Linked DNA regions of Homo sapiens: region 1 is linked to region 2. The links come from fine-mapping of genetic effects on gene expression. A gene starts in region 2. The other region holds a variant in brackets. All regions are shown on one strand. Distances are from middle to middle. Region 1 overlaps TTC28 (tetratricopeptide repeat domain 28). Region 2 holds the start of TTC28-AS1 (TTC28 antisense RNA 1).

Region 1 (2,935 bases), 58 kb after region 2:
CTCAGCTGCGTCTTTAGATAGCCTATTTTCCTTCCCTTTCCCTCTCTGACTCACACACACGCACGCCCACACACATGCACACACACGATTACCATTCCCAGAAATCAGTGTATTTGTCTTTTTGGCAAACTTTGCCCTTCTTAACCTTCTATATTGTCTTCTTTTATTTCTGACCTTTCTTATTCCCTCTTTTATTTTCTCTCTGGGTATATTATTCTTTTTCTAACTTCTTGAATTGGTCACCTAGCTCAGTAAGTAGTTTTTGTTTTTTCCTAACATACCTCAGTACTCCAGTCTCACAGTACCAGTGTCCTTCTTCGTCGCTTGGGGCTCTTGCAGTTACATAAATATTACCCTTGAATATAAACATTTAGGGCTATAAATTTTTCTTTAATATGTTGTATTCCACTAGTTTTATGGAATTATTAATTTTCTTTATAACATAATGTATACATTTTCTGAAAATAGCATGTAAGCAGAAATGAAAATAATTGTAATTTTATTTTATTGGGTGAAAGTGATAATTGCAAATTATAGGCGAGTATAGAATAAATAAGAAACACCACTGTCCTTAATAAAAGAAAAACTCAGATATTCCTAAGGTAAATCTGGAGGCATCCACCTGTTTTGATATGTTGTATTTTCCCATTTCTATTTTGAGTTCTTCCATGGGTCATATGCTATGTGGTCCATTTTAAAATGTCTAAGTGATTGGCTACTTTTTAGTTATCCTCTTGTTATTGTTGCCTGACTTAATTGTATTGTGCTCTGATTATGTGGTAGTAATTCTTCGATATTTGCTGAGACTTGCTATGTGGCCTGTGCATGGTCTATTTTCATGAAATATTCCATGTGTGCAGGTGAAGACCGTGGATTCACTATCTGAGACTGGGTTCTCCTTAACCGCATTTCAGAAGCCTGTTCACATAATTGTTTAAACCTACCACATGCTTTCTAACTTTTCGTCTGCTGATCTATCAAAAGAGTAGTGGCTTAAAACTTCCCATGATGATGTTTTTTCAAACTTGTAGTTCTGCCAATTTTCTTCATGAATTTGGAGGCTATGTAGTTAGCTGCATACAAATTTAGAATTTTGCCTTTTTGCCAAGTTTATCATTAGGAAGTGGATCTTTGTTTTTATTAGTGCCCCTTACTTTAATATCTAGTTTGCCAGTCCTTTTACTATCAGCCATTTGGGGGGGCCCTTATGCTTTGGTGGTTTTCTTTTCAAATAGCATATAGCCTTTTAAAGAGCATGTGGCTTATTGCCATCATCTGTTAATCTACTGCTTAATTGTTTAGTTCACTTACATTTATAATGATTACTGATATTTTTCTTTTGTCTTATTTTTTAATTTTAATTTTTGTGGGAACATAGTAGATGTATATATTTATGGGGCACGTGAGATGTTTTGATCCAGGCGTGCAATTCGTAATAATCACATCATGGAGAATGGGGTGTCCATCCCCTCAAGCATTTATCCTTTGTGTTACAAACAATCCAATTATACTTTTAGTTATTTGAAAATGTACAATTAATTTCATCTTATATTTGTCCTGCCTTTTAGATGGTTTTTGTTGTTCCTTCCTTTTTCTATTCCTTTACATCAACCAGGGTTTTACAAAATGAATCTGTTTCTCTTCCACTGACTAGTTTGGAAGTATAACCCTCTACTTCAATGTGTGTGTGTGTAACTACATATATTTAACTTACTCTAAAAATAATATACAATTTGTTCCTAAACTTATAGCACTTTAACTCCCATGTTTTACATATTATTGTCTAGTATTTTTTGTTAGCCGAATGAAACATTACTCTTTTTATAAAGGCAATATTTG[TG/T]TTCATTTATGCATATTTACCCAATTCTTTACTATTCCTTCATGCTTCTCACACTTTTGCATATAGAATTATCTTCCTTCTTTCTGAAATACTACCTTGGAAGTTTTGTTAGATGATATAGGGATCTGGTGGTGATGAACTCTGTTTCTGTTTGTCGAAATACGTATTCAACTGTCGAACTTTCTGGCCCTCCAACTATGAGTAGCGTCTAAATTACCCCCCCACCGACAGTGCCCCCAGACCAGAGACGTGCGGGACAGCTCTGCTGCATGCATGGTCGTGCTCTCTGCTTGGCGGATGTGAGGCTATGGTGTAGAGGTGGGGTTAAAACTAGAGAGATACGTGCTCAGTAATGACACACGGCCCACTCCATGTACTGCAAAGAAACCTAGACAGTGTGGAAAGAGTAGAGAAAGTGATCCAGATACAGCACTTAAAACTGAGGGAACTCATGCTTTAATAGACACTGAAAATCACAAAGGAGGAAGGCCAAGTGCCTTAGCAATCTCAATAAAAATATGAAGTTCTTTTTACATGGTAAATTTCATAATATAAAAAGTTTAATGTCTGGAAATGGTGTAATTTACAAAAAAAGTCCACGTAGGCCAAAGATGGCTAACACTGCATATAAGGAACGTGAATGCCAGTGGGAAGGTGTCTGAGGAGGGGCAGGGCCACAGGTGTCCTGACAGGGAACATCTTTGAAGGATCTGGCACAAACAAGGGCCCAGTTCACAAACCACAGGTACACTCATTTTAGATAGAACAGCAGAATAGGTGATGAAAATTATACAGTTTTCACTTGTTGCCTACTTACTGAAAGCAAACCAGATTATTGCATGGCATTTTTCCAGCCTGAACTGAAATTATCAAGGCTACAGTTCTTCTTGTGGGTCTGCAAATGTGTGTGGCTGGGAGGTGGCAGAATCGGCACGGGCCAGGGACCGGCTGCAGTGATCATATGCTGGAGCGTCACTGGGACAGAGAGAGCAGGATGAGGACAGCGTGGGTGACACCTTTGTCTCCTGCTAAAACCCAGCAAGTTTCAGTGTGGACCGTGAATTTTTAAAAAATGGAATGGAGGTGAAAACTTTC
Region 2 (2,500 bases):
AGGTGTCTGAAAAAAGCTAAATTAAGCCAAAAATATTTCTAAGAATTTAAAATGAAGAATTTGAAAACCAACGAATGGGCCATACTCGACCTCCCTAGCTGCCCAAAGGATGCTGACGACACGAACCAGCTGTGACAGACGAACATTCAGAGGCAAGCAGATTTCCGTAATGTTTACAGTCCTTGCCAGTAGGAAAAGCCGTGACTTTTCAACAAAATCACTTGGCCAGTCGGATGCACCTCGAAATCCCTCCATTTGACAGAGCACGTGTTAACTTCTAAGAAAGTAGGTGGGGCCCGGGATGTCACCTCATCTTAAAACATGCGGAAACCAAAAAGAGAAAAGGCTCTCCCGTCAAGTCAGCGGAGCTGCCCAGGAGAGCGGAGGCTTTCCGGAATCCCGGCTCCACCACGAACTTCAAGGCGCCAGCGTCCCACCGCGAGTCCTGACACGAGGGCTGCCTTCAACCGGCAAGCCCATCTCCCGCTGGTTACCAGGGGACTCCACCCCGGACGACAAATCACAGTCAGAACCAACGTGTCTCTCCCACCCTCGGACTGCGGCTCCTTCCCACCGGCGGGCCTGGGGGTGGGCCCAGACCCAGCCTGGGGGTGGGGGGTTGGGGAGAAGGCGGGTCCCAGCGGAAACTCCCGGCCGCGCCTTCCCGAGCCATGCGCTCGGGCCGGGACCCAGCCGCCTTCGCCCCGGGGAAGGGAGAGGGCGTGTTACCACGGCAATGCCTGGAGGGCCGAGGGGCGCACTCGCTGAGGGGCTTCGAAGGGGCCGGGGGAGGGAGGGGGCGCCCGCAGGGAGGGGCTGACACAGGGCTGACTCCGATTTAGGAATATCCTACCACTTCTCCATCAACAAATCTCCCATCACTGCCGTCCCACGGCCTCGCTCGCGCCCACAGACCCACTCACAATTCCTTGATCAGCACCATCTTCCCGGAACCCCCTCACAGCTGCCGCCGATACCACCGCCGCCGCCGCCGCTACCGCCTCTCACAGCGCCTGCGCGGCCCCGCCTCCCTGCCCCCCCGAGCCACCATCGCGCCTGCGTGCTTACACCCTTCCGCCGCGACCAGTCGCGTCAGCGCGCGAGGGGGCCTAGCTCCGCCCAGTTTCGTGCCCCACCCCGGGCACACGAGGCCTCCACTGCGGTTGCGCAGCCTGCCGAAGAGCGTGCGGCTTCTACTGCGGCTGCGCAAGCTCGACGCGCGCACTCTTGTCTGCTTACGAGGGCTCCTCCCTTCAGCTTTGGTCCCTCGGGGCGTCTGGGCAGCCTACGCTTTCCGGTGAGTTTTCCAGTTGGTTCTTTGGAAGCCGTTTTGCGGTGACTGGTTTTCTGCTCTCTCTCACTGCTCCGAGTCAGGGCCCACCTCCTTGACCGACACCTCACCTCCATAGTCCACATAAAAGACTCCTGACAGGTTCTGGAGGCAGCCGACGCCAGCTTCTGTTCCCCTCCCCAGCCCTTGGCAGCTCAGGTTCCGCGGGAGGACGTTCACCTGCTTCGCGGTCTCGTGGAGGTCCACCGCGGCGGAGAATCCTAAACCTCACCTGTGACTCGGCAGGATGAGCGGCCAGCACTCCCGACGGAGGCCCTCTGGGAGAAAAGAGGCCCTTGGCCTCGAGACCCAGGAAAGCGGGCTGTTCAGGAGTTGGTTCGCGCAGTTACACCGAAAGCGCCGTGGGCCTCAAAGCCGCAGCCCGGAGGTCGCTGGCTTGCTCTGTGTCAGACACGGTTCTAGGCAGTGGGGATGCATCTAGAAGCAGACACAGTCCCTGTTCTCAAGAAGCTCACAGTCTAGAGGAGACAACTCACTTGGAAAGAAAGCAGGGAGAATTTGGGGTGGTGGGGAAGTGCTATGCTATGAATACAGTGGAGTACTGGGAGAAGCAGAGGACTCAAGACAAGGGCTGTCTTAGGAGGCGGTGTTTGAGCCTAGCCTGTTAGGATGTGAGAGGGGCATTCCAGTTGGAGGGAAATATGACCCGAGGATGGAGTAAGCCTAGGGTGTTCAAGGATCAGCTAGAGGGCAGATGTGGCCAGAACATCCTAAGTGAGGGTGGGAAATGAGCTGGGACCAACTGGATTACTAGGCCATAGTAAAGAATTTGTCTTCTAAGAACCATGAGAACCTGTTGAAAGGCTATTAAGACGATTAAAATATCACGAAAACATTTTTGTATAAACATCTGGTGTATCTGATAGTGGAATACATCTGTGGAGTTAGGGCTGCCTCCAAAAAAATAACGGAAATGGACTGACTCAGTGACTCCCAGGGACTGCCTTAGGAGAAAGTTTCTGGAATGTCAGAACTTCCAGAAACTTTCTCCTAAGGCAGTCCCTGGAGTCACCGAGTTTCTCTTATGTGTGACTAGTGCTAGTTATTGTGAGGGCAGAGATTTAAGGAAATACACGCTCTTTCTTGCAAGAGTTGAGAAGCTTAGAATCCGCTTTGTTGATTGGACATTGGATTTTATGCCAAGTACTG

What was found. PIP is the estimated chance that this variant, and not a neighbour inherited with it, causes the effect.
Region 1: its variant is fine-mapped to the expression of TTC28-AS1 in unexposed skin (GTEx, PIP 0.93).

The regions. Positions count from the first base shown.
Region 1 is chr22:27,975,741-27,978,675 of GRCh38, forward strand. It overlaps TTC28 (tetratricopeptide repeat domain 28), which reads right to left. Exons shown (of 23, transcript NM_001145418.2): 23 at 2,274-2,935. All of the region lies in intron 2 of TTC28-AS1 (TTC28 antisense RNA 1), which reads left to right. Among named protein-coding and RNA genes, the nearest start is that of MIR3199-1, 57 kb to the left of the region's middle. The variant TG/T (reference allele first, on the strand shown) is at 1,840.
Region 2 is chr22:27,918,249-27,920,748 of GRCh38, forward strand. It overlaps TTC28-AS1 (TTC28 antisense RNA 1), which reads left to right and starts at 1,128. Exons shown (of 5, transcript NR_026963.1): 1 at 1,128-1,297. It overlaps PITPNB (phosphatidylinositol transfer protein beta), which reads right to left and starts at 1,008. Exons shown (of 12, transcript NM_012399.5): 1 at 924-1,008. The coding sequence starts at 943. MIR3199-1 (microRNA 3199-1) reads right to left here and starts at 2,364; the gene lies at 2,277-2,364. It overlaps MIR3199-2 (microRNA 3199-2), which reads left to right and starts at 2,278; the gene lies at 2,278-2,363. RefSeq lists enhancers at 208-1,193, 1,194-2,178, 1,349-1,528 and silencers at 459-778, 969-1,038.